Linked DNA regions of Homo sapiens. The protein of the gene in region 6 interacts with the protein of the main gene of each other region in a pairwise test. Each region holds a gene or a part of one and is shown on either strand. Other genes may lie near its edges.

Region 1 (4,087 bases), on a different chromosome or scaffold from region 6:
AGGCCTCTGCCTTGTTTTACACTCAAGGAAACAGACCCAGAGGCCACAAGGCACCAAGCAAGCAGGGTCAACACTGGGGGTGGGCAGGGCGGCGGCTGGAACCAGGTCTCCATTCCTTAGGCCCCCTAGGCCAGCATTTGCAGTGCGTGGCCTGCAGGCTTGCTCTGAGTCTCCCGCTCTGCGGCTGGGGTCCTGGGACAGCCTCGGCCCTTTCCCTTCCTTCCATCTCAGGCCTCTTTGTTCCCCTCCAGCCCGCACCTCACTGCAGCTGCCTCACCTCAGGAGGTGACGGCTGCTCCATCTTCACCTAGAAAACAGTCATCTGGAGGGAACTCCCTCAACTTCCCGCCTGGGCCTGGCTGCAGGCTTATCAGCCTCTCCACCCATCCTCTCGGTTTCCCTCCCGGCCTCGGAGGACACATGCACCCTGCTCCTCAGCTGATGGGGGCCAGCCAGGCACTTAGGCTGAGACCCTTCCTCACCCCCAGGACCCCACGCCTACGTGCATTCAAGTCCCTCTCCCCTACCACCACTTCTAGAATCTCTATTTCTGCTTCTGGCTCTGTTCTCTCAGTGAATGGGAACTCTTTTTTTAGGAAAAAGAAAAATCACAAGCAGACACCCACCCCCACCGTTTATCTGGTGTCCCCCTATCTGGCCTTTCTAGTTTCCTTTCTCAGTCGAACCTCTCTGAAAGTTAGTTTATAATCTGTGCCTACCCACCTCACCTCTCAGACACGCCTCGCCTCCCAGCAGCCTGGCCTCAGGCCCCACTTCTCCGGCTGTTGGGTCTCCTCTTGCTGAGGGGTCACCAAGGACCACCTGATGCCAAATGCAACGGACACTTCCAGCCCTCGGCTCCCTGTACCCCTTTCCTGCCTTTGACTTTTGATCGTGCCCCAAAGCCTCGCTCCTTGACCTTTTCCATCCTCTTCCCTGCTTTGTCTCCTCACTCTCTAACAAACCCTCTTCCTTCTCCCCCATGGCTGACTTTGGACTTACTTTGTCTTCTCCTGGAGTCTGAACCCTGTCCTGGTCTCTGCGGGCTCCTGGTCTTATCCTCCCTGGAGACCAGCTCCCCTCTCAACACCTCCACATTCCCCCCTCCTCCCCTAAGTTCACACTCCTCCCACCTTCACAGTCCAGCCCTGGCCTCTGCCCTGAGCCTCCAGTTAACACAGGCTGACCTTTGATGTCTCCTCCCAGTCCTCCTACTGGCCCCTCACACGCAGCTGCACCACCATCACTTTGTCTTCCTTCCTTATCTTTTTCTGTTTGTTTGTTTGTTTTTGTAGAGACTGGGGTCTCATTTTGTTGCCCAGGCTGGTCTCAAACTCCTGGGCTGAAGCCATCCTCCTGCCTCGGCCTCCGAAAGTGCTGGGATAACAGATATGAGCCACCACACCCAGCTGCGTGTGGCATTTTCTATTTTAGTTTGGTGGCACACACATCCTCCTGGGAATCTAATCCAGGAAGTTTATCTTCCATTCTTTCAACCCCATATCCAATCAAACAAAGTCTTTTTTTAAATTGTGGTAAAATACAAATAATATAACATTTATTATTAATGACATTTAGTACATTCACGGTGTTGTGCAACCATCACCATTGTCTAATTCTAGAACATATTCTTTCTTTTTCTTTTTTTTTTTTTTTTGACAGAGTCTCACTCTTGTTGCCCAGGCTGGAGTGCAGTGGTTGGATCTCAGCTCACTGCAACCTTCACCTCCCAGATTCAAGCAATTCTCCTGCCTCACCCTCCTGAGTAGCTGCAATTACAGGCACGAACCACCATGCCCGGCTAATTTTTGTATTTTTAGTAGAGACAAGGTTTTGCCATGTTGGCCAGGCTATTCTCAAACTCCTGACCTTAAGTGATCCACCTGTCTTGGCCTCCCGAAGTGCTGGGATTCATTCTAGAACATTTTCAACACCCCAGAAACAAGTCCTGTTGAGTCCACTCAGGAGATCCCCAGCCTATCCTTCCCTCATCCCCACTGCACCCGCCTAGCTCAGGCCTCATCAGCTTTCACCTGAACCACTTCCAAGCTGTTTACTGGCCTTGGGTGCTGTCACACCCCTCCTGACACCCTCAGGACAGGGCCCAGCTTGTCAGCACAGCAGGCCAGCCCTCCATTCTGGCACGACAGACCCAGCCACCTGGCCTCTCTAGCCCCACACTCTGGTTTCTGTAATGGGCCATGCCCAGAAGGCACGGATTTCTCACACCCTCGTGTCCTGGGACACGCTGTTCTCTTACCTGGAGTACCCCACTGCCTGTCCTTGGCCTGGCAGGCTCAGTTCAGTGGTCACTTCCTTCAGACTCCTTGACCTCTCCTGGGCAGCCCTTCCTCTTGGTGCTTACTGATATCACTGGAGTCCAGCTATGTGGGCCCCAGCAACCTTTGCTGTTTGGGACAGCAAGGATGATTTCTTACTTACTCTGTCAGCCCAGCACCTGGCACAGGTTCTCGACACATGTCTCATTGGATGGGAACTTGAACTGAACTTGGAGATGCTTGAGATTCGGGTAGGAAGATGGCTCAGCATGCTCTCTGATGAGCACAGAAGTTCATCAGGGACTCTATGCTTCGTGGCTCCCAGTAATTTTCCTGACGAGGGTGGGCAGCCCCTCCTTCTCCTGCACCCTCCACTTTCTCTCTGAGTCATTTCCAGGTTGAGGGCCAGGGGGCTGGCTGACTGATGGTGCCGCATGTTTCCAGGGAGCACCACCATCCACTGATGAGTGGCCTTGAGGTCAAGGTCCCACTGTTTTTAGCATGTTGGGGTTTGGCACTGTGGTCACTGGCTGTTCCGTGGTGACTTTCCAAATTTAGATCCTTCTCCGTCAACCTTCATCTCCCCGGGTTGAAAAGATCTGACCTCTTTAGGCTGTCCCACAGCCCCACCCTTCATCACAATAGTCCTGAAACTTTTTGGGTTCAGTAAGGAAATCTGTGGGCCTTCTCTCCAGAAAAAGCACACATTTGCACACAATTGGAGGTAGTTGATGAGCCTCCTAACACCCACCCATGCACCTCCCAGGGGCTGTGTCCCCCAGGTTGTGAACAGTCACTCTGTGTAAATAGTGAGACCTACAGGCAGTAATTCAGTTTGGCTGTGCTTGGCTGGTTTATTTAGAAAGATGATAATGTTTTCCATATTATCAAAACAAGAATCAGGCAGAGACTTTTGAAGTTTGGTTGCGTGGTATATTTGTTACCTATTGCTGCATAACAATTTACCTAAAACTTACTGGCTTAAGATAACACAGATTTATTATCCTGAAGTTTCTGAGGGTCAGGAATGCAGGAGTGGCTGAGTTGGGTGGTGCTGGCACCGGGTCTCATTAGATTGCAGATAAATTGTTGGTCAGGGTTGCGGTTATCTGAAGGCTTGACTGAGTCTGGGGAATCTGCTTCCAAGCTCACTCCTGTGGCTATGGGCTGGAGGCCTTAGTTCCTCATCCTGGGTACCTTCCACAGGGCTGCTTATGCTATGACTGCTGGCATTCCCCAGAATGAGGGATCCCAGACAGGAGAGAGAGTGATCAGGATAAAAGCTGCATTGTCTTTTATTACCTGATGGAGTATTTTGTTGGTTAATGTTAACGTGGGAGGTGACCACGTGTAAGTGTGATGAGCAGAGGGCAAGGACCATTGGGGGGGGCATCTTGAAGGGCTTCTATAGCAAGGGAGGTGGTGGTGGTTGTGGCGGTAAAAACTAGGTCACTGTTTTTGTTGTTTTGTCGATGATATTTGTGTTAAGATGAAGAGCTGAGACTCATATCTCAACAGAGTTTATAAAATGCTTTTCTTTTTTCCATCCTGCCCTCTCTTCTCCCTTGTCTGTTCGAGCTAGCCATGGGAATGTGGTGTTCCTGCCAGTGCATCCATTGAGTTCGTTTATTGTTAATTTATTTATTTTCTGAGATGGAGTTTTTGCTCTATTGCTCAGGCTGGAGTGCAATGATGTGATCTTGGCTCACTGCAACCTCTACCTCCTGGATTCAAGTGATTCTCCTGCCTCAGCCTCCTGAGTAGCTGGGATGACAAGTGCCCGCTACCATGCCCGGCTAATTTTTGTA
Region 2 (4,087 bases), on a different chromosome or scaffold from region 6:
GACTTCATCCTGAGGGCAGCAAGGAGCCCCTGAAGAGTTGGGATGATATGCCCAGATCTGCAGAAGATTTCAGAAGATCACCTTGGAGGCAGTGTACAGTAGAAACAGAAAGAGACCAGGAAAAAGGCAAGTGCAGCCTCCAAGGTGAGAAGCAACCGAGGTGGGAGGGAAGGTGGAGGCACGCATTCAGAAACAGCAGGCTCCATGCGGGAGCTAGAGTCAGGGTGCCTTAAGGAACCATAAGATAGAGGTCCAGGTGCACTGTGGAATAGACTTAGCATCCCTTCTCCTGGAAGCTTTGCCCCACACACTCCCCACACCCAAGCAGGATAAGTGCTCGTCTGGGAAGCACTGAGTATTTCTCCCAGTAATACGTATCACATAGTACCGTCATTCATTCCTTAGCTGTCAGCCTTTCTCTATAGACCCAGAGCTCCGAGCAGGTAGAGGCAGTGGCCATCCTGGTCAGTGTCCACGTGTGGCATCTGGAACAGTGCCCAGCACTTGGGAAGCCAAACTGAGTGAACAGAGCTGGATAAGCCAGGAGGCCACTGCTCTCATTCAGGGGAGAGATGACTGTGTCATGGGAAAGGAATTCGAAAGATATAACAACTGAGCTTCTTAATTTCTCTCTAGTCACCATTCAAAACACTGAATGAAATGCTTTCCAAGTCAATTATGTTATGAAAATTCAACAGTAAATCTGATCTGTTGAGTGATGTCCACAAAAGCTCACATCCCTGTGGAAAGTCAGAAAGGATCATGGTTTGAGCCCTTTTACAAGCAAAAATTAGGCATAATTCTAGGCCACATAGAAACTGCCACCTCATTGGGATAACAAGTTTACCTTCTTTTGTTTTCAGAATAATTCTGCAAAGCCTCAAAGCAGAGGATGGAAACATTTCAAATCCTGCTGACATAGTCTGCATCTTTGCTTTGATTTTTAAATATGATTCCAAGCAGGCAGATAATGTTGTGACCCAATTACGGGGTATTTTGGAAGTAGTAGGCACCCAACTTGGGAGTGGAGCTGGTGGGTGTAAAGGGAAGAGTTACTAAGCAAGCACTACCACCTGCCTCTCAATCCTTCACGGGATTTTACAGAGAAGGGAGCTATGGCAATCAGGAAGTAATGCAACATCTCCCCTGACCCGCTTCCCATTTTCTCACCATTCCCAAAATAGACAGAGCTAAGGAAAATCATAAATATAATTCTCAGCCCTCTAGGGAAAAGCTCATTAAGGGCATAAATTTGGGTCCCTGGGAAAAAAGGGATGAAAGGCAAAGCTATTAAAAATCTCAAGAGATGAGACAATGGGAAATAAAGCCAACGGACAAAAAGGAACTAGAAAAACACAAAAACTATGGCCATTTCCTACACCAAAGCATACTTACAGGTAGGGCTACAAGCTCAACTGCCCTGGATACTCTAAACTCAAGCTCTTTAGAGTCAAAAGGTAAAGTTTTTGTTTAAAACTAAAAATAAAAATACTCGTTAAGTAAGGTCTTATCTCACATCAAGTATTGTTCTCTGCCCTTATACATTCACTGATGAAATCTTCACAACAATCATATTATATAAGCACAATTAGTATTCCTATTTGCAGATGAGCAAACTGAGCACTGTGTAATTCTGTTGTCAAAGTACAATTCTGTTGCCCTTTGTCATATGGCTATTAAATTGCAGAGCAGCACTGGGACTTGACCACTAAACCCCTGCTGCCTCCTTCTAGGGCTATCCTTGCACATGTTGTAGGATATTTAGTAGCATTCTTAGCCTCTTCCTACTAGATGCCAGTAGTTATCCCTCCACAGTCACCATGACCAAAATGTCACTGCCAAATGTTCCCCAGTGAGCAAAACTGTCCTGCTTAAGAACTACTGCCACAGAGATTTGAAAGGCCAAATCCCGAGTTCCCTTACAAAAGGAGTAGCAAATCCTGGGTGGTAGGCAGGAATAAAATTGAGTTAAGGAAAGATGACAAAGGAAGCAGCTGAAGGGTTTGCTGTAGTGGGAATTTTACATGAGGAGTCACTAGCCACAGCTCTTGCCACTCTCGCAGGATTAGGACAGCCTTCCTTCCCCTCCACTCCCATCACACACATGCCTCTACTGCAGCACCCTATAACCAATGTTCTGGTACATTCCTCTCTGTCCTCCTGAACTTAGCACAGTGCCAGGCACAAACTATGTACTCAATAAGCATTTGCTGAACAAAGGAAGGAACAAATGAAGCCGAGGTTTCTGGATGTCACCAAATGAATGTCTCTCTTCACCAGTGTCCTGGAAAAGGTATACACAGACCTTGGTTCTTGGAGAGGACAAGAGGTTCTGATCAGATAATCTGAAGAATCTGAGTCTGAATCAATGCTTCCCAAGGTGTCTCTACACCCAAATCATGCCTCTGCTGTGTTCAAAATTTGCAATGTGGTATATGATCATTTCTTGAAATGTCAAGGAAATTTTAACGGTATTAGTTCCCCCAGGAATGAAACAACTCAAGAAACCTAACTCATGCTAAGGAAATTCTGATTTATTCACTTCCACTGACAAACAATACCACCTAGCAAATTGTGATACTCAATGTGGCAGGTCGACTCTTGCCCAGGACAGAAGTCTACCTGAGAAACAGAAGGAAGATCAGAAGGTAAGAACAGAGCCAGCACCAAAGAGCAAGCAGGATGCTGCCAGGGAGAGGACCCATACCTGTAATCCCAGCACTTTGAGAGGCTGAGGCGGGCAGATCACTTGAGGTCAGGAGTTCGAGACCTGCTTGGCCAAAGTGGTGAAACCCCAGCCTCTACTAAAAATACAAAAATTAGCCGGATACAGTGGCGGGCACCTGTAGTTCCAACTACTTGGGTAGCTGAGGCAGGAAAACTGCTTGAACCTGGAAGGTGGAGGTTGCAGTGAGCCGAGATTAAGCCACTGCATTCCAGCCTGGGCGACCAAGTGAGACTCCGTCTCAAAAAAAAAAAAAAAAAAAAAAAAAAAGGAAATAATTTGTTGTTATTGTTTTGACACTCCTTCTTCACCCCACAATAGCAACCAAAACTAAAGGTGAATAACAGCAATTCCATGAGCAAATCATTCTGAAGCTTCCTCCAGCAATTCAAGGCTCACCCTGGAGGGAATGATACTGCAGAGGTCTGGGCCAAGCTGGCTATTACACAATTCTAGGTTCTATGGCTTTCACCCATCACCATTTCCTAGAATCACTAACTAAGAATTGCTAAAGAGTGTTGTTTTGCCAGAAAGAGGCCTGCATGCAAAGAATCAAATGTCAAGATACATCTTGAGGTTCACCTGCTGAAATTCACACTTCAACCACTTGCCCATTCTGTTCCCTTACACCCTCATCTTTCATCTTGGTGCTTTCCTTGTCATTCTCAAGCTATAATTCAAAAATAGTCACTGGCTCCTAGGGCACTTTCAAAATTAGCTCATTCACAGTTCCTAGGACCTTGGGTGACTCTATATTCCTGGAAAGCCCAGGGGCCCCATCAGCTGACCCACAAACTCCACATGTTGGCCTGGCCTCCATGACTCAACTCAATCCCAAGGGCAGGCCTCCCTGCATCTCAGGCCCAGATTCCCAGACTTACCAATTTCATGGACCATTCAGCGGCTAGATAAAAATATTCCTATCAAATCATAAAAGAATCTTACCCAAAAATGAGAAAGGCATAGTATCAGAGAAAAGGACATATCTTCTTATTTGAACAATTATGACATATTCACTACATCATTATCATCATTGTGATAAGAACAGTGAAAACCACTAACCAACAATAAATGACCTGTGGGGCTAACATTATGCTCTGCATATAGGAGATACTCATTTACTTTTATATTGTGTGGAAACTGAGCTCTGACTTACACGACAGGGACACATCCCATACCTCCAGTAATGCCAGGCCTTCCTTCTTCAACAATGGCATTTCCCTTTACCCTCTGGAATTCCGCAAAGTCTCTCCAATCTATCTCACCCTCTTAAACACACGTTTTTCCTTCTACCTCGATTCCAATATTCTGCATTCTTTTTTTTGAGACAGAGTCTCGCCCTTTCACCCAGGCTGGAGTGCA
Region 3 (4,087 bases), on a different chromosome or scaffold from region 6:
TTAGATTCAAATAATGCAATTTATAAAAATTACACTTGCTACCCTAAAAATATATTCACTAAAAGCCTTTTCTTTTTTTCTTTTTTCTTTTTTTTTTTTTTTAAAGAGACAGTGTCTTACTCTAAAGAACGAGGCTGCCCAGGCTAGAGTACAGGAGTACAGTGGTGTGATGATGGCTCACTGTAGCCTAAAACTCCTGGGCTCATGGGATCCTCTCACCTCATCCTCCCGAGTAGCTGGGACTACAGGCATGAGCCACCATGCCTGGCCCCTCTATTTTTATCAGGTGTTACAGAAAAGCTTCAAAATCATCATGGAAGAAAATTATCATTTTTACCAGTACAAAACTTTTATTGCATCCCAACCAAGCTAAGATGAATACAGAATTGTTTCAACAGAAGTTACCATTATCATAATTCAAGACAAAAATCAGCCGGCAATTACATGAGTTGGAAAACAAACTACTCTTATGTCACAGTCTACCCTAAAGCTCCAACTTATGTCAGAATTTAAAATACACACACATATACACAACCCTGTGGATTCCTCCTCATTTATGTAAAACCTACTTTTGTGATGATCTGCTATTTTCTTGAGTCTTCTGGAATGAACACTGTAGCCCCACTCCCGGATAAGGAGAAGATACCACTTCCAGGGCTTAGCACTGCCCCTGGCTTGAAGCAGATACTCAAATATTTGTTGGGTGAATGAATGATTGTCTGCTGATAGGGCTGCCCATCAAGCCTCATAAAGAAAAAATTCAGAAAAAAGCAACTTTATAGAGAAAATAGGAAAAAGTTTAAGAGATATTTTGCTCACTTGAAGAAATCAGCATTTGTTAAAGGTGAAGACTGGATTGACTGGTTCATCAAGTGGCTTAGACACAACTGACTAAGTGGGCTATACCTTATCCCACCCCAAAGTTAAATACAAAACAGGTATTTTTTTTTTTAATCACAGGAAAAACACAGGGCAACTTAACTATAAAATTATTATTTTTATTTTTTATTTTTGAGACAGAGCCTCACTCTATCGCCCAGGCAGGAGTGCAGTGGCGTGATCTTGGCTCACCGAAACTTCTGCCTCCTGGGTTCAAGCGATTCTCCTGCCTCAGTCACCCCAGTAGTTGAGATTACAGGTGCCCGCCACCACGCCTGGCTAATTTTTGTATTTTTAGTAGAGACGGGATTTCACCATCTTGGCCAGGCTGGTCTTGAACTCTTGACCTCAGGTGATCCACCCGCCTCAGCCTCCCAAAGTGCTGGGATTACAGGCATGAGCCACCGCATCTGGCCCTTTTGTATGTATTAAATACGTATGTATGAATATAATACATCATCAGGTTTTTTAGGAAGAAAATATAGATGACTATTGATCTGTTGTTAAGAGTAGGAAAGGATTTCCTGGCGGGGCGCGGTGGCTCACGCCTGTAATCCCAGCACTTTGGGAGGCAGAGACGGGCGGATCACAAGGTCAGGAGATCGAGACCAGCCTGGCTAACATGGTGAAACCCTGTCTCACAAATACAAAAAAATTAGCCAGGCGTGGTGGCGGGCGCCTGTAGTCCCAGCTACTCGGGAGGCTGAGGCAGGAGAATGGAATGAACCCGGGAGATGGAGCTTGCAGTGAGCCAAGATCACGCCATTGCACTCCAACCTGGGCGACAGAGCGAGACTCCGTCTCAAAAAAAAAAAAAAAAAAAAAAAAAAGAGTAAAAAAGGATTTCCTAAGTATGAAAGCAAAAGAATAAATCATAACATAAATTTTATATATCAGAAAGACAAGAATCAAGACGTAAGACAAAACAGGAAAATATCTGCATGACAAAGAGTTAACATCTTTAATACATTAAGAGCTATGACAATGATTATTGAGGTTTAGCCTCAGTAATAATCCAAGCGGCACCAATTTAAAAGATGTATATCCAATTCTGGGACGATATGGGAAAATGGCACTTTCTCAGACTGTTGTGGGAACTGGGATAGCCATTTTGGACAGTGATGTGGTGGTATCCACCAGAAATTCCAAGTCTAGGCAGCCATTCTTCAAAATGACTGGCACATGAGGAATTTCAATCCTGTAGCATTTTTAATAACATAGAGAGACAACGAAATGCATGACGGTAAGTCAGCCCTGGACTACACTGCTATTTAAAAGAAATGAGGCAGAGATGAATATATGAGATGGAAAAATGCAGAATATGTATATATAACACCATCCTGAGGCCAGGCACGGTGGCTCACGCCTGTAATCCCAGCACTTTGGGAGGCCAAGGCAGGTGGATCGCCTGAGGTCAGGAGTTCGACACCAGCCTGGCCAACATGGTGAAACCCATCTCTACTAAAAATACAAAAATTAGCTGGGTGTGGTGGCAGGCGCCTGTAATCCCAGCTACTCAGGAGGCTGAGGCAGGAGAATCACTTGAACCCAGGAGGTGGAGGTTGCAGTGAGCCAAGATTGTGCCACTGTACTCCAGCCTGGATGACAGAGCAAGACTCCATCTCAAAAAAAGAAAAAACAAAACAAAACAAAAACCCTCCTGTTAATTACAACACAAAAAGTACACAGTTTAGTCTTAGAAGACTTAGAAGGATCTACATTAAGCTATTAACAGCAGTTATTCTGGGTAGTGGGAGCAGAGATTAAGCGGGGAGCTTTCATTTTTTTACCTGATACTTTTTTTTTTTTTTTTTTTTGAGACCGAGTCTCACTCTGTCACCCAGGCAGGAGTTCAGTGGTGTGATCTTGGCTCACTGCAACCTCCGCCTCCCAGGTTCAAGTGATTCTCCTGCCTCAGCCTTCCGAGTAGCTGGGACTACACGCTCAAGCCACCATGGCCAGCTAATTTTTGTATTTTTAATAGAGATGGGGTTTCGCCGTGTTAGCCAGGCTGGTCTCGAACTCCTGACTTCAGGTGATCCACCCGCCTAGGCCTCCCAAAGCGCTGTGATTACAGGCATGAGCCACCTTGCCCAGCCACCTGATCAATTTTTAAGTGGTTTGATTTTTCTATAAATCCATGTATTATTTTAGTAATTCTTTAAAAAGTAAAAGAAGAAAAATAGATATCAAGCATTTATCTACTAAAGACGGGTACTGTCCTTTGAGAATTCCCTCAAAAGTTCTTTGAAGCTCAAATGGCTACATCTTTCCCATTCATAAGATACTTTTTAAATTTCCTCTTTCTACATTTCTTTTTAAAAGTTTATTTTCAATTAGCTTCCTCAGGTTGAACTCTCTGTACATTTCTTAGGAGAAACTGTATGGTGTCAACACTGCCTGTTTTATAACATCCATTCGTAATCTGTAATCTGAGAAAAAGACTCGTAAAAACCCAAACCACCCTCCAGGCCTAACATCTTCCAGAAGAAACCCATTCACTGCCCATATTACATTTAGTCCACACAATTTCTGAGACAAAGCACAAAGCACTAGCCATACAACTCCCACCAGCATAAATACGTGGAGTACAAAGAATGTCCTGTCAGCTGGGCCCAGAGCACACCCCACAGCAGTAAAAGAGAATGACAATTTGAGTCACAGGATCAGGAGCAGAATCAAATTTGGGACTTGAGGCAGTGTGATGCTCTTCTGGTCTTCCGCTTCCTTCCACACCTTCTATTCTCCTTCAGCCAAACCTTGCCCTCACATAATCCCTAAGCAGGCTATTTCTTATGGATGTCTACAACAGCTTCACACTGAGGTGTCAGAAACCACTAGAGAGACAACAAAGAACGACTTAGGGTCTCAGTCGGAATCACAATGGCCGCATAAGTGAAAACTCACATTTTTGCTTAGGGGAAAAAAAATGGGAAAATTCAATTGGAACATTCTGCTTTACCACACAGAAGTTCTGAAATCCACATGTCAAAACATCAAATGCGGAGTGACCACTAATCAAAAAGACAAAACAAAACAACAACAACAACAACAACAACAAACAGCTTGAGATGTTGAGCCTGAAGGTTGAGAAATTAAGGAACCATTCATTTTTACAAAACTAAAGTCCACACAATGGTGCCAAGTAGTTCAAACTGCAGCTGATACAGCACCTGAGTGTCAGACCTAGAATGACTGGGGCCCCCAG
Region 4 (4,087 bases), on a different chromosome or scaffold from region 6:
ACAGGCATGCACCCCCATGCCCGGCTAATTTTTTATTTTTAGTAGAGACGGGGTTTCTCCATGTTGGTCAGGCTGGTCTCGAACTCCCGACCTCAGGAGATCTGCCAGCCTCAGCCTCCCAAAGTGCCGCAATTACAGGCGTAAGCCACCAAGCCCGGCCAGCACACTGCATTTTAAGACACCTTAACTGTTCAATGCTGACTACCTTAACATACCCTTACAACCCTCTCTAGGAGGAAAGGAGGACCACGAATCATTTCTAATTTTAAAAAATACACACAGACACACTCTCCCTCATCTATCCTGAGGTATCTGAAGGTCTACAGTTAATCTTACATCATTTTACAATGTGTTATTTTGTAAATGTTATTACTTCGGAGCCTAGCAAAGGGTCAAGACCATACTTGGATTCTCAATAAACACTCCCTTGTAGCAAAGCACACGTCTTTAAAAACATCAAATAGGGCAAAAGGGCTTATAATAAGAAGTCCTCTGCCCATCTTCTCTTCAATCCCCAGAGACAACCAATACTAATTATTTTAGCCACTCTAATATATGCATACTACAATTGTTTATCAATTTGAGGTACTACTTTTTACCACAATATTAATAGCCAACACTTATTGTTGTTTACTAAGTGCCAGACACAGAACTTCACATGTATTATCTCACTTAATCCTCACAACAGCCTCATAAAGTAGGTGTTATTATACCCCCATTTTAGTTTGGAAAATTGGGATGCAGAGTTCAATAACGTGCCCAGGATTGCAAGCTAGTGAGCAGAATTGAGATTTGAATCCTAACACCATTGCTCACTTTTAACCTATATACTCTTATATCCACCAACTCCACAGTCCACTCTTAATAAATACTTTTGAGATCCTCCCAAATTAAATAAAAATAATGAACAAAATAAAACAAGCCGAATCAGGAAAATGACATTTCTCAAAACCAGAACAATTTTTTGGTCAGTAATTTTCAACTCTGGCTTTGAGCACAATCCATGAAGTCTCACCAATTAATCACATTTTAATTTTATATCTATTGACTCAGTGATTACTAAGCTTAATAGTAATGCTCAGTGGTTACTGGGCTTAACAGTGGTCACTATACTAAGCATAGTAGTTACTAAGCTTAATATATAGTATTTTAAAATATACATTATTTTAAAATCTAGATTATTATTATATGACCTATAACATTTTTGCTGAATTTTTTAAAAGGCATCAAATCCTAGTGACTGCATAAAGAAGTGCTTTGAAGGAAAAGAGTTGCAGGTAACCTATGGGAAGAAAAACAACTTTCAAAGTCATTTTGTATCTGCTTTCTGAAAGCAAATGAATTACCTTATATGTGTACAAATACATATATATACACACACACATATAATATATACATAATAGGGCAAAAAGTAATAGAAAATGGCAAAATTCTTTTCACTAAAGAACAGCTTCATGGCCGAGCATGGTGGCTCATGCCTGTAACCCCAGCAGTTTGGGAGGCCGAGGCGGGTGGATCACCTGAGGTCAGGCGTTCCAGACCAGCCTGGCCAACATGGTGAAACCCCATCTCTACTAGAAATACAAAAAATTAGCCACGTGTGGTGGCAGGCACCTGTAATCCCAGCTACTCGGGAGGCTGATGCAGGAGAATCGCTTGAACGCAGGAGGCTGAGGTTGCAGTAAGCCGAGATCACGTCATTGCACTTCAGCCTGGGCAACAAGAGCGCAACTCCATCTCAAACTAAAGCAAAAAACCAAAAGCTTCAAAAAGTAGATTTTATGAAATCTGTGAGGACAGTAGATAATAGCAATAGTTTGATTTAATATTCAAACAGAAATCATCAGAAATAATAAAATGAATGTGAAATAAAAAACGTTACCATAAAAAGAGAGACGAAAATGAGAAAAAAAGGCAATAGCAGAAGTTTTGAAATAGAGAAAAAAGGAAGAAAGAAAGAGATGAAAGCCCTAGATAATCTAGGCAATCCAGTTCAAAGCTCTGAGTCAGATGGTTCTGAAATAGCCCCTGTGATACTGTGGCAGAAGGGGATATTGTGATCTCATTCTATCAAAGAGCTGAGATGACTTACTGAGGATGTACTAGTAGGTAAAATGGAAGCTGGTCATGGCTAGTCTGCTGGACCAGTAGACCAACATATGGTCTCTGTCCCTCTACGGAAGCCTTTCTTCTAACCACTCTAAATGACAGGAATCTGACACCACTTACAAGCTACATTACTTAATTCAGTACTTATTTGAATCGTCCAGTGTTTCACGTGCCTACAACTTCCCAACTAGTTATTTACCTTCTGGAAAACATATGCTATCTTTTTTATGTTATTTTAACCCATATAACCTAACACAATGCTACGTACCTAGTAGACAGATGCTCAAGTTGATTATATTGAAAAATCACAATTTAAAACCAGAACACTTGAGTCTGAAGAAATCTTAGAGGTCATCTAGTCTAGCTACTTTATCTTAAAAGCAACAAAACTGAGACCAGTTAAATACCTACTAGCTCAAGGTCACTGAGCTAGAACTAGTACCCTAATCCCTTGATCATCAGTTCTTCTTTATCCAAAGAGCCTTTAATTTCTTTCATTTCAATAAAACAAATAATCACCTATTTCAAAAGAAAACAAAGTAACAGCAGCTTCCCTTTCAGTATTCACTATATGCCAGGGCCTTCAGAAGGTACAATTTGCTTGGCAGCCTATGTGCCTAGGTCTATGAAAACTGCTTTATAAACATTAGCCTAGTTAATATTCACAATAACTGTAAAAGGTGTCACTATTAACCCAACTTTACAAATGAGAAAAATGTACTTTGACCATGATAACAGTAAGCTGCAGAAGCTACATTTTCAGTTTGTCACCACAGCTTTGGATTTTTTTTTTTTTTAAGAGAGTTTTGCTCTTGTTGCCCAGGCTGGAGTGCAATCTCGGCTCACTGCAACCTCCACCTCCCGGGTTCAAGCAATTCTCCTGCCTCAGCCTCCTGAGGAGCTGGGATTATAGGCATGTGCCACCACGCATGGCTAATTTTGTATTTTTAATAGAGACAAGGTTTCTCCATGTTGGTCAGGTTGGTCTTGAACTCCGAACCTCAGGTGATCCGCCCGCCTCGGCCTCCCTAAACCCTGGGATTACAGGCGTGAGCCACCACGCCCAGCCAACTTTGGCTCTTAACCAGTATTCTACACTGCCTCTCACTGAACACCAAAAATATCCTGAAGTCTCACACAGACTCCAGCACAATTCCTTACCCAAACATGACAAACAAATGTTTAAATGACCAACTAAATGAGTGGATGATTTAATTCATTAAAAAGTAAGATTATCTTACCTAAAATACCTCTAAAAAGGCGTTTATCTAATTGTATAATCCTCTAAGAAAGGTTTTAACAGTGGGCAGTTTGCATACTAATAAGAGATTTAAGCAATGCTCATTTCTTTACCCACAAATAATTCATCTGCTTAACAAATACTAAAGTGAAAAACTGTTTTTGTGTGAGAGTATTAAATTGGAAGATAAAAAGTGAAATGAAATTTGTTCCTGCAAGATCCTATTCCACTAAATTAAAACCCACATAAGTTTTAAATCAGTCACCAAAACCAAAATAAATGTGTAACACTTCCCTTTCTTCTGGTAGAGAAAAAAGAAGTAACATTAACTGAGCACCTACAATGTGCCAGTTCTTGACCCTCAACATATAGCCTCACTTAATCCCTTACAGCCAAGTAAACTAGGCAGCATCTCCATTTTCTTTTCTTTTCTTTTTTTTTTTTTTTTGAGACATAATCTTGCTCTGTCACCCAGGATGGAGTACAGCTGCTCGATCATGGCTCACTGCAGCCTCAACCTTCCAGGCTCAAGCAATCCTCCCACCTCAGCATCCGATTAGCTGGGACTACAGGCGTGTACCACCATGCTCAGCTAATTTTTGTATTTTCTGTAGACACAGAGTTTTGCCATGTTGCCCAGGATGGTCTCGAACTCCTGGGCTCAAGTGATTCTCTCACCTCGGCTTCCCAAAGTGCTGGGACTACAGGTGTGAGCCTCCGAGCCCAGCCAGGATCTCC
Region 5 (4,087 bases), about 18 Mb from region 6:
AAGAAAGAGTAAGAGCAAGTGCCCTATGGTAGGACTATGCCTGGTGTGTTCAAGAACAGTAGAAAAGGCTGGGCACAATGGGTCACGCCCGTAATCCCAACATTTTGGAAGGCAGAGGCGGGCGGATCACCTGAGGTCAGGAGTTTGAGACCAGCCTGGCCAACACGGTGAAACCCCATCTCTACTAAAAATACAAAAATTAGCTGGGCGTGGTGGCACACGTTTGTAATCCCAGCTACTTGGGAGGCTGAGGCAGGAGAATCACTTGAATCCGGGAGGCAGAGGTTGTAGTGAGCCAAGATCAGGCCACTGCACTCCAGTCTTGGTGACAGAACAAGACTCTGTCTCAAAAAAAAAAAAAAAAAAAAAAAAAAAAAAAAAAGAAAATGGGCAAGTACTGCAGGGAAAAGAAGAGTAACCAATACTGCGAGTTCCTACAGATTAGAACAGTGCTATCCCTAACAGAGGCCAAGACAGAGTAACCTCTTTCTCACACTGGGGGAAAGAACAGAAGAAAGAGGGCAGAGAAGTTTGTAAGTAGAGGAAGGGAAAGCTCAGGGAGTTCATGCCCTTTTTTCCTATGAGGTGGCAGGCAAGGTATTCTGCCAAGCATGGGGCAGTGACAGGTTTGAGTCAAGGGGTCCAGATTTTATAATAGCAACTGTGGAGAAATGGGGAGGGAGCTAAGCAGAACTGCTCCGACAGGGACCAAAGACAGATTTAAGGGAGACCTCGGACTACACATTAATTGTGGCACTAATCCCCAGCACTATGCAGGTTTCTCCATGACACGGAGTAAGAATGGAGGGTATGGATGGTAGGGATGATGTGAGGCTGGCTTCTGCATAGTAAGTCCTGAAGAATAATAAGAAAGAATAAAAACTGCAAGCAATGCAACCCAGAGGTCGTAGTATAGAAAAGGAAGGAAAAGAAGTAAAATCTGGAAGAGGCCGACGGTTTAGGAGACTTAGAGTGGGAGAACACACATAAAGTGATTATGAAAGTGAAAGCTATCAATTATCACAGTTTAAGACTTGAAGGTGAATTTGAGACCTTAACATGATGACAAGTTAAAAATGTGGCCATAACACTAAACAACTGGAACAGAATGAAGCCAATGTTTGCTTGAGCTCAATTCAAGAAATTTCACAGTTAACGGTAGTTACAAAGGAAACTCAGCATAGTGGTTACTTACTAGTACTTATGATTTTGGGGAAGTCACTTGGCCTGTTTTAGTTTCATCTGTAAAATGGGAATAACAGTATTTATTTCATATGGCTGCTATTAGGGTTAAATTAGTTAATAAACGTAAAGTGCTTAGAAAAAAGCCTGGCACACAGAAAGTGCTCAATATGAATAAGCTATTTTATCACTATTGTTGTTTCTGTTATTGTTTATTTACATAGTCATTGACATCTGCCAAGATGATGTCAAAAATCTGGATGAAAGAGAGAACTAAGCCAACAATATAGTAATCCAAAAGAGCAATGGGGCTGGGCACAGGGGCTCATGCCTTTAATCCTCCCACTTTGGAAGACTGAGGTGGATCACTTGAGCTCAGGAGTTCAAGACCAGGCTGGGCAATAGGCAATATAGTGAGACCTCCATCTCTACAAAAATTTAAAAATTAGCTGGGCATGGTAGCGCATGCCTGTGATCCCAGCTACTCAGGAGACTGAGATAGGAGGACCACTTGAGCCCAGGAGGTCAAGGCTGCAGTGAGCCATGACTGCGCCACTGCACTCCAGCCTGGGCAATAGAGTAAGAGCCTGTCTCAAGGGGAAAAAAACGGGCAATGGTAGAGGGTAGTATGGTTGAATGATATGCTTTGGTATAAACAATGTGATATTAAATACAAAAAATAGGCCGGGCACAGTGGCTCATGCCTGTAATCCCAGCACTTTGGGAGGCCAAGGTGGGTGGATCACCTGAGGTCGGGAGTTCGAGACCAGCCTGACCAACATGGAGAAACCCCTACTTTACTAAAAATACAAAATTAGCTGGGCGTGGTGGCACAGGCCTGTAATCCCAGCTACTAGGGAGGCTGAGGCAGGAGAACCGCTTGAACCTGGGAGGTGGAGGTTACGGTGAGCCGAGATCGCGCCGTTGCACTCCAGCCTGGGCAACAAGAGTGAAACTCCGTCTCAAAAAAAAAAAAAAAAAAAAATATATATATATATATATATATATATATATATATAAAATATATAAATTTTTAAATCCATCAAACATTTACAAGCTTGTGACTTCAAACACTATACAAAAAACCACAAGACAAATGTAAAAGTACCAATTGAGTATTAGATAATAAGTACAGTATTATGTACATACAACATTACAAAGAATTTTGAAAATGCTCTGACTGGAAATCACGGAAACCATATCAGGATACTAAATTGTACTAAAATGAAAAGGAGTTGGAGTTAACTTTATCTCACCATTTCTATATAGAAATGGTAGCCCAGGTGCAGTAGCTCATGCCTGTAATCCCAACACTTTGGGAGGCTGAGGTGGGTGGATCACAAGGTCAGGAGTTCGAGATCAGCCTGGCCAATACGGTGAAACCCCGTCTCTACTAAAAATACAAAAATTAGCTGGGCATGGTGGTGTGCACCTGTAGTCCCAGCTGCTCGGGAGGCTGAGGCAGGAGAATCACTTGAACCCAGGAGGTGGAGGTTGCAGTGAGCCAAGATCACACCACTACACTCCAGCCTGAGTGACAGAGTAAGACTCCATCCCAAAAAAAAAAAAGGGCAGGGCACGGTGGCTCATGCCTGTAATCCCAGCACTTTGGGAGGCCAAGGCAGGCGGATCAGAAGGTCAGGAGTTCGAGACCTGCCTGGCCAACATGGTGAAACCCCATCTCTACTAAAAATACAAAAATTAGCTGGGCATGGTGGCAGGTGCCTGTAATCCCAGCTACTTGGGAGGCTGAGGCAGGAGAATCATTTGAACCCGGGAGGCGGAGGTTGCAGTGAGCTGAGATCACACCAATGCACTCCAGCCTGGGTGACAGGGCGAGACTCTGTCTTAAAAAAAAAAAAGAAAGAAAGAAAGAAAGAAGTGGTAAAGTGTGAGTTCCTGGAAGGTAAAGAACTAAATCTCTACATGCACCCTCAGTTAATGGGTAATGCCTATAGTAAAAGAGCATCAATGAATCAGTGGCCCGTTAACCAAACAGTTCAACTCTGAGAAGTCCAAGGCATCTTTTTATTTTTAGCAGGCAAAGTCTGAGCCCAGAGTGGAGTGCAATGGCGCTGTCTTAGCTCACTGTAATCTCAAACTCAAGCCATCCTCCCCACTCAGCCTCCGAAGCACTAGGACTACAAACACACACCACCCACATCCAGATTTTTTTTTTTTTGGTAGAGATGGGGGTCCTGCTATGTTGTCCAAGCTTGTCTCAAACTCTTGATGTGAAGCAATCCTCCCGCCTCAGCCTCCCAAAGCACTGGGATTACAGATGTGAGCCACTGCATCCGGCCCAAGGCACCTTTTGCAGGTTTTTCCTACCACAGTCACATCTGTTTAATTTCTCTTCTATCCTGACAAGCTGCACAAAAAAAGTTCAAGAAGTATGCATATTTATTCACACTGTTTCACAGAATCCAGATATTCACCAGTACCTGTTCAAACGAGGCCATCTTTCAAAGAGAAATACATGAAATAGACATAAAATAACTTCAGAGCATTATGAAATTATATCATGTTAGTTTACAAGACCAAAAGGATATGCTTCCTCCTGGAAAAGATCTACTATGATTAGCAGCCTGGGAAGGGGATTACAAACAGGAAGGCAGGGGGCCCATTGTCCTTTACTTTGTACCCAGGACAAGACCACAGTGAGAAAATGGGCTAAAAAGCTTTGGCCTTAAGAAAGACTCCGTTGGCAGACTTTCTTGGACACTTATTCCCTGCACGAAATCAAAATGGGAAAGAAGAAAGAGAGAAAAAAGGAAAAGTGCATTCATATCTGGTCTTGAAAAGGAAAAACAGTCTGTTCTAAGCCTTAAAAGCTATACTTAATTGGATAAATTTTGGAAAAACACTCATCAGAGCAGAGCTACACATACTCATAAAACCTAGC
Region 6 (4,087 bases):
TTCTAAATGAGAAGATGCAAATAATAGTCATTTAGAATATTATTGATCATATTAAGATGATTCTTTTGTTCCTTTATTAAGCCCAAATAAAAAAATTTAATCAAATATCTGGGGGAAGGAGATTATTTTATATAAGTTGAGGTGCACCTTAATGCAGGAGTCTTGTACTCAGATAATGATATTATTTTTCTGAATATTTTGAAAACAGTCGAGAATCGTAGAATCTGGTTTACAGAAAAAGTATAAATATTTCTGGTAAGAAGTGACATTTGATTAGGAATACTAATTTTAATTCTCATGTTAACTCTTATTAATTGAGACATTAAGTATACTGTTTTTTTATAGTAGCTTTTGTCCTTTTTCCACTTGGTGGGAAAGTATTGTTATGGAGCTGAACAGAGTAAGCTTTGCTATGATGATAATACTTGTTGATATTTAGAATGTTCTTTACTTTTAGTTAAACATTTAATTTTTGATTCAAAGCAATTCCCTTTTAAATTGCTTCTGCAATTTAATTTAATTTAATGGCTTCCACATTCAAAGCAATGTGGGTCTGATAATCAGTGTATTTAAACATTTCAATAGTTTTCTTTCACCTGAAATTTAATATTGTAGCAATTACTGAATTTAGGAAAATTGGTAGGTAGTTGCTATCAGCACCGTTACTACGGGAATACATTAGAATGATTAGCTTTTAGGTGAAATTGAATTTTTTCTTTAGTTTCCATAGTGACTGAAAACGATTTAGGTCAGCTTCACCTGTTGTGCCCCTCCCCCTTTTCAAAATAAGAGGAACATTTAATTTAGCACAATGATGTTAATTTTTTCCTAGTAGATTGATGAAATGAATGTGATAATCTCACTCTCTTTACCAAAAGAATAATCCAATATATACATGTATGAATTTTGGGGGAATATTTCAGACTTTAGAGAACATTATAGGATAAAAAATAGTACCTAAATATCTTATAAAAATCAGTGTTTTATTACATCACTGAATTTTTCTCTTTTAAATTTAAAAATGTCAAATTTAGGAAACATCTGTGATAATTTAAAGAATAATTTTTGAAATCTGCTTTTGCTTTTCACCAGGTGTTCTTCTGCTATAGGTTAGGAAGCAGTAGTTAGGCAACACTAATGAATAATATTCTTGAGAGTGAGAACTAGAGCTTCACAAAGAGAATAGGCCATCTCTCATATTTAGTGGGGCATTTAATAGGTAGATAAACTGAAAATTTTTGCTTTCATTTCTATGTATTTTTTGTTAGTATGTATTTATTTACTGTAGGTACCTCACATTCTGTGCAAAAAAAAATTTTTGGAAGTAACTCAGTGGTTTCCTTTATCTTTTTTGTTCTCTTTCAGAGGCTTGCTTATATAAAACTACAATTTAGAGAACCATCGGCCGGGCGCAGTGGCTCATGCCTGTAATCCCAGCACTTTGGGAGGCCGAGGCGGGAGGATCACCTGAGAGGCAGGAGTTCAAGACCAGCCTAGCCAACATGGTGAAACCCCGTCTCTACCAAAAAAAAAAATACAAAATTAGCCAGGCATGGTGGCAGGCGCCTATAATCCCAGCTACTTGGGAGGCTGAGGCAGGAGAATCGCTTAAACCCAGGAGGCGGAGGTTGCAGTGAGCCGAGACCACGCTATTGCACTCCAGCCTGGGCAACAAGAGCGAAACTCCGTCTCAAAACAAACAAACAAAAAAGAGAACCATCAAACTCTGAATGTTGTTTCCTCTGTAGTATGAAGTGGTTATTTTCTTCCCTTTTTGACTGGCCATTTTTTTTTTTTTTCTGATAAAGTGGCTTTTAAACTTTTCTGATCATGACCCACTATAAAATACATTTTACATTGCTATCCAGTACTCAGACACATATATGTACATATTAATATTTGAAATCGAAACAGAAGTTTCTTGAAACAGTATCTTTACTACTGGTGATGCATTGTAATATTAATATTTTCTATTCTATTTTGTTTGTTTGTTTGTTTTTTGAGACAGGATCTCACCCTGTATCACCTGGGCTGAAGCGTAGTGACGCTATCACGGCTCACTGCAGCCTCGACCTCCTGGGCTCAGGTGATCCTCCTGCCTCAGCCTCCCAAGCAGCTGAGACTACAGGTGTGTGCCACCATGCCTCACTAATTTTTTTTGTTTGTTTGTTTTGTGTTTTATAGATGCGGTTTCACTGTATTGCCCAGGCTGGTCTTGAACTCCTGGGCTCAAGTGATCCTCCTGCCTCAGCCTCCCAAAGTGCTGGAATTATAGGTGTGAGCCACTGTGCCTGGCCTCTATTTGTTTTATTGTTTTTAATTTAAAACAAACTGCTGGTTTCCATTCACTAAGTTGATATCAGTGCCGTTACTACGGGAATACATTAGAATGATTAGCTTTTAGGTGAAATTGAATTTTTTCTTTAGTTTCCGTAGTTAATGCAATGTACCTGCAGTTTGCAAAATTTTAGTGACTGCTAGATCTTTCCCCTAATATTGTCTTTTTGTAATGGAAAATGTTTAGGTTTGGGGCCAGGTGTGGTGGCTCATGCCTGTAATCCCAGCACTTTGGGAGGCTGAAGTAGGAGGATCACTTAAGCCCAGGAGTTCAAGACTAGCCTGGGCAACATAGCGAGACCCTGTCTCTACCAAAAAAAAAAAAAAGAAAATGTTTAGGTTTGCTAGTTTTTTTCTCTGCAATGTACGTGGATGGATTCTGTAAAACTTAACCTAAATAGCTGCAGAACAATCATTGAGAGAGGGAGGTCCTGTTGCCCTGATTACCATTACTGTCATCCCTGTTCTTTACCATTTCTAGGCACATTATTTTAAAAACTTATTTTGGAATCGTGAGGTTGAAAATGCTCGGTTGTATGCTGAGCTTCTATCGTTAGAATCCTTTGCTAGTTTCCATCTAACAGTCCAAAGTTTAGGTCCTTTCAGTTGGTTTTCACAAACCTTGCTTCTGTTCTTGGCAACTAGTCAAAAGGTTACAAAGCTGCTTTATTCTGCTCTCTTCTGGCCCAAGTCCAGTCTTTGTAAACCAAAAAAAGAGGACTGAGGAATGAAGCAGTTTGCTCATGTGTATATGGTCAGGTGAAATAACATGACTGAAGAGTAATTAGGGTTTGCGACAGTGGATTACATTTATGTATTGTCCCAATTCGTTTCCTGTAATCACAAAGGGGGAAAGGGCGTAGAAATATCAACAGTTCCTTGCCTATCCTAGCTGGTAGAGTGAAACAGGGTCAGCAGACATACTCTACTATTTTTATACCACTACCTGCTCTTAACACTTAGTGAGCACTTACTATGTGCCAGGCACTATTTAAAGCACTTCACTTGTGTTAACTCATACTCATACTTGGGAGGCCTGGGGAAAAAAAATGAGAATGGTAAAGGATAAAGAAGAAGACTTGCCATCTTCTCGTATGTTCTCATTACTTGGCTTAAGAATTCTGGCTGTTGATGACTATAGTATGGCATATCATACATTTTAAGCTCAGTCAGCTTTTAAATATCACCAGTCCTGTCTGCATTGTTCCATTATGAGACACATAGCTGTGGTTTGAGAACTCAGGCTTTGAAGCTAGCCTGCCTGGGCTCGAATACCAGGTTGGTGACTTACTATGTGTATAGCATTGGGGAAGTTACTCTCTGTGCCTTAGTTTTCTCATCTGTAAAATGGTGATAATAACAAATAGCTTCTATTTTATAGACTTATTGAAAGATTAAAATAATTAATGTATTACCTGGGCATGGTGGTGCATGCCTATAATCCCAGCTACTCAGGAGGCTGAGGCATAAAAATTGCTAAACCTGGGAGGTGGAGGTTGCAGTGAGCTGAGATCATGCCACTGCGCTTCAGCCTGGGTAACAGAGCGAGACTGTCTCAATTAAAGAAAAGAAGAAGAAAAAGAAATAGTTAATATATTAAAAGTACTTAGAACGGTACCTGACCCATAAGAAGCATTCCATAAATGTTTGCTATTAATAGTATCAACTCACAGTTGGAGCTCCTGAGAGTGTTTGTGACTATGATGAGTTCTGTATATTTGCTGAGTAACAGGGCATGATTGACATTTAA
Region 7 (4,087 bases), on a different chromosome or scaffold from region 6:
GCTTACCACACGCAGGCTGGACACAGAGCTGACAACCTCGATGCATATCCAAAGCCACGCGTTGCTCACTCCCTCTGTAATCTTGGCCCAGTCCTCAGATACAAACGCCATGGTGCCCACCATTCAGCCCTGCTCTCAAGAGTCAGGCCCACACCTTCCCACCCAAAGCCGCCATATGTGTGGCTCTAGAGGGCCCACATCCAGTTCAAGCTCCAACTCCTCTGTCCTCCTCCCTGTGTGACTTCAGGCCAGTCTCCCTCTCTGGCCTCAGTTTCTCTACCTATAAAGCAGGGATGCTAAGAGCAGCAGCTGCCACCCCTGGGCAGAGAAGACACTGGTCAGATCTTGCACATGTGGCACACGGTGATTCTCCATAAACACTGGCTCTTAACATCATAAATGTCCAGCAGCAGATGAAACTGAAACAGTCATCCAGCTCCCGGTTCAAGCTACGGGTGACGCCACAGGGGAAAATTTCCCACCACCCAGCAGGGACCTAGTTACCAATATTCACAGAAACCCAAAACGCACCCGGAAGCAGGCGTCTTTCCTCTCTTTGCAGTCCTGCTTCAGACGCAGGGCCACATTTTCCCTTTATTCAGATTGTAGCTAATGCCCTATAAATATCTCATTATTGGCTTGGATTTTTCCAAAGCTTTAACACAATAAGGGCTTAATTACAGCTTGTAGTTGGCAATCCCAGTAAATTACGGTTTACATGATGTTCTCACTTTTTTTCAGCAGCCGAGGGGCCTATAATTTCAGCACTTTCATTCAAATCGGGCAGAAGTTTGGCAGATGTGGCTCTGAGCCAAATATAAACGCTGAGAGCGACAGCGAGACAGGGTTCCATTCAAAGGCCAGCCTCTACCGCCTAAGCCAACTCTGAAAACTCTAAATCTAACCTAGGCCGGGTGCCGTGGCTCTTGCCTGTAATCCCAGCACTTTGGGAAGCCGAGGCAGGAGAATCACTTGAGCCCAGGGGTTTGAGACTAGCCTGGGCAAAAAATAATGAGACCCCACCTCTACAAAAAATTTCTTAAAATTAGCTGGGGGTGGTGGCGCACACCTGTGGTCCCAGCTAATTGGGAGGCTGAAGTGGGAAGATCCCTTGAGCCCAGGAAGTTGAGGTTGCTGTGAGCTGTGATCACGCCACTGCATTTCAGCCTAGGCAACAGAGTGAGATCCCGTCTCAAAAAAAAACAAAAAAAGAAAAAGAAAAGAAAAGAAAACCTCCTCTCTAAATCTACAACTGTCCCCAAGGCCATCTTCCGCCCTCATCCAGAAACAATCCAGGTTATTACCAGGGGATTTCAATGTTATGAACCTATCAAGGGCTGTTATCCGTCAATAAGTAACTCTGAAAAAGCACTTGGACAGCCTAGAGCGCAGCTTTGGAGAAATCTGTCTTCCTGATTATAAACCTAATCCCCAAACCAGCAAAAACAAACCAAGAATCACATGGGGAGACGATTCACATGTGGGGTTAGGGCAGAGTATGTCTTTCCGGTCTTTTCACTGAGCAAATACAATCGTTTTAAACAAGACAGGATCCCACAGCCCATTTCATCTGGTACCTAACAGGTCTTGTGCAGCTTTCTGGGTCATTAAAGATTCTTCTAGATCCCTCTGAGTAGCGAGTTGATAGTCGGTTGTCTGGACACGCTTATCTGGCCAAATCCCCTATCATTGGTTTTTGTTTGTTTGTTTGTTTTGAGACAGAGTCTCGCTCTGTTGCCCAGGCTGGAGTGCAGCGGCGCAATCTCGGCTTACCGCAACCTCCGTCCCCCAGGTTCAAGCGATTCTCCGCCTCAGCCTCCCGAATAGCTGGGATTACAGGCGCCTGCCACCACGCCCGGCTAATTTTTGTATTTTTAGTAGAGATGAGGGTTCACCATGTTGGCCAGGCTGGTCTCGAACTCCTGACCTCTGGTGATCCGATGCTGGGCATTTTTTCTCCCATTTCTCATCACCGTACACAAAATGTGTGTAAATAACTCTCACGGCCAATTACTTGTTTGCAGCCATGATTCCCACTTAGAAAGGAACCAGGAACAACTTCTGGTCGATATTTCAGGATCTGGGGAACAGGGCGTGCCTGCATGTCCTGGTCCTGGCTGTATCCCCAGAGCAAGAACATTGCCTGCACTGATAGGCACTCCATTTATATCAACAGAGTAATGATGAGTTCCTTCTCTTTAAGGAAAAAGAAACTAAGGCCGGGTTCGGCGGCTCACACCTGTAATTCCACCACTTTGGGAAGCCAAGGCAGGAGGATCGCTTGGGCCCAGGAGTTTGACACCAAACTGAGCAACAAAGTAAGACCCTGTCTCTAAAAAAAAAAAAATTTTTTTTTTTTGAGGCAGAGTCTCGCTCTGTCGCCCAGGCTGGAGTGCAGTGGCACGATCTCGGCTCACTGCAACCTCCGCCTCCCAGGTTCAAGCGATTCTCCTGCCTCAGCCTCCCGAGCAGCTGGGACTACAGGTGAGAGCCACCACACCCACCTAATTTTTGGATTTTTAGTAGAGACAGGGTTTCACCATGTTGGCCAGGATGGTCTCAATCTCTTGACCCCGTGATCCGCCCGCCTCGGCCTCCCCAAGTGCTGGGAATACAAGTGTGAGCCATCGCTCCCTGCCAAAAAAATTTTTTTGTAATTAGCCAGGTGTGGTGGCTCATGCCTATAGTCCCAGCTACTCAGGAGACTCAGGTGAGAGGACCACCTGAACCCAGGAGTTGGAGGCTGCAGTGAGCCATGATTACGCCACTGTACTCCAGTCTGGGGGACAGAGCAAGAGAAAAGAAACGTACACCTGTCATCAGAGTCCTGATCCCAGATAAAAGGAGACAAAAGCCAACCAACGAGATCACAAATGCTGCCTGTTTCACAACAATTTGCTACGTGATTCTCAGTCCACTCCCAGTAGGCAGAGACCACCATGTTCCCATTTTCCAGATGAGGAAACTGAGGCCCAGAGAAGTGAGGTCACTTTTTTGGTGTGTGGCAGAACCAAGCCTTCCATATTCCCACAGATCCCTCTGGACTGTACCAATTCCAGCAGGCCCAGCACTGCAGACCACCCTAACCGAGCCTTGCATGGCCTTTCCTTTTTTCCTTTTTTTTTTTTTTTTGAGATGGAGTCTCACTCTGTCCCCCAGGCTGGAGTGCAATGGCGTGATCTCCGCTTACTGCAAGTTCCTCCTCCTGGGTTCAAGTGATTCTCCTGCCTCAGCCTCCCAAATAGCTGGGACTAAAGGCATGCGCCACCACACCTGGCTAATTTTTGTATTTTTAGTAGAGATCGGGATTCACTATGTTGGCCAGGCTGGTCTCAAACTCCCAACCTTGTGATCTGCCTGCCTCGGCCTCCCAAAATGCTGGGATTACAGGTGTGAGTCACCATGCCCGGCCATGTATGGCCTTTTCAAGATGCAATTTGTCTTTGCCCAAAAGGAAAGTCACTGGAAACAGAAGATGTCATTTCCAAGTGGCTCTAAACTAATAAGATCTGTTAAAGGGACAAACCAGCCCAAGGAACACATCACGTGCCCCTCCATCTGTCAGGGACAGGAGCCAACGGGCATCCGATGTGCACTGGTGCAGCACCCACTGAGGCACAGGCAGTGCCCCCGCGGCTCATCCACATATCCCTGGAGGGACACATCACCAAAGGCCAAATAAAAACGCAGCTGGAAACGCCAGCATCCCCGGCACAGCTGCTTCTTATTAAAAGAAAAATGGCACGGGGCGCCTACATGCCTGTGGAGTCTGCTTACTGAGAAAACTGAGTTGAAGCTGGAAATCAAAGGAGAGAGCCCTCAGCTTGGCCAGGTCCAGAGGGACAGCAGTAGCGCCACCAGCTTTACTTCCCTCTGCTCAGACAGCCTCCCTGCCCACAATGTTCCTAGAGGCCTGGTCCCACCCTAATATCTCCCAGATCTGATCTCCCTCCACTGGCCTGCTAAACTGGCCTCCGGGCATCCTCCCACATCAGGACCTTTGCACTGGATTCTCTTCCCGTCTCCAGGGGTTCCTTCCTCGCCTCCTTCAAGGCTCTGCTCAAATGTCACCAATTTCCCTATTTAA

The links.
Region 1: the proteins of EYA3 (region 6) and PECAM1 interact in binary tests that used the Homo sapiens proteins (3 or more experiments, as listed by UniProt).
Region 2: the proteins of EYA3 (region 6) and APBB2 interact in binary tests that used the Homo sapiens proteins (3 or more experiments, as listed by UniProt).
Region 3: the proteins of EYA3 (region 6) and MECP2 interact in binary tests that used the Homo sapiens proteins (3 or more experiments, as listed by UniProt).
Region 4: the proteins of EYA3 (region 6) and ZDHHC17 interact in a two-hybrid assay, tested with the Homo sapiens proteins (one large-scale study listed by BioGRID and IntAct).
Region 5: the proteins of EYA3 (region 6) and KIF1B interact in binary tests that used the Homo sapiens proteins (3 or more experiments, as listed by UniProt).
Region 7: the proteins of EYA3 (region 6) and DNM2 interact in binary tests that used the Homo sapiens proteins (3 or more experiments, as listed by UniProt).

What each region holds. Positions count from the first base shown.
Region 1 is NC_000017.11:64,383,974-64,388,060, reverse strand, and holds part of PECAM1 (platelet endothelial cell adhesion molecule precursor), read left to right. Parts: intron 1-4,087. UniProt on the Homo sapiens protein: Cell adhesion molecule which is required for leukocyte transendothelial migration (TEM) under most inflammatory conditions.
Region 2 is NC_000004.12:41,204,231-41,208,317, forward strand, and holds part of APBB2 (amyloid beta precursor protein binding family B member 2), read right to left. Parts: intron 1-4,087. UniProt on the Homo sapiens protein: Plays a role in the maintenance of lens transparency, and may also play a role in muscle cell strength. Involved in hippocampal neurite branching and neuromuscular junction formation, as a result plays a role in spatial memory functioning.
Region 3 is NC_000023.11:154,087,466-154,091,552, forward strand, and holds part of MECP2 (methyl-CpG-binding protein 2), read right to left. Parts: intron 1-4,087. UniProt on the Homo sapiens protein: Chromosomal protein that binds to methylated DNA. It can bind specifically to a single methyl-CpG pair. It is not influenced by sequences flanking the methyl-CpGs.
Region 4 is NC_000012.12:76,766,729-76,770,815, reverse strand, and holds part of ZDHHC17 (palmitoyltransferase ZDHHC17), read right to left. Parts: intron 1-4,087. UniProt on the Homo sapiens protein: Palmitoyltransferase that catalyzes the addition of palmitate onto various protein substrates and is involved in a variety of cellular processes.
Region 5 is NC_000001.11:10,213,253-10,217,339, reverse strand, and holds part of KIF1B (kinesin-like protein KIF1B), read right to left. Parts: intron 1-4,087. UniProt on the Homo sapiens protein: Has a plus-end-directed microtubule motor activity and functions as a motor for transport of vesicles and organelles along microtubules.
Region 6 is NC_000001.11:28,078,373-28,082,459, reverse strand, and holds part of EYA3 (protein phosphatase EYA3), read left to right. Parts: intron 1-2,008; exon of another isoform or gene 2,009-2,128; intron 2,129-4,087. UniProt on the Homo sapiens protein: Tyrosine phosphatase that specifically dephosphorylates 'Tyr-142' of histone H2AX (H2AXY142ph). 'Tyr-142' phosphorylation of histone H2AX plays a central role in DNA repair and acts as a mark that distinguishes between apoptotic and repair responses to genotoxic stress.
Region 7 is NC_000019.10:10,724,491-10,728,577, reverse strand, and holds part of DNM2 (dynamin-2), read right to left. Parts: intron 1-4,087. UniProt on the Homo sapiens protein: Catalyzes the hydrolysis of GTP and utilizes this energy to mediate vesicle scission at plasma membrane during endocytosis and filament remodeling at many actin structures during organization of the actin cytoskeleton.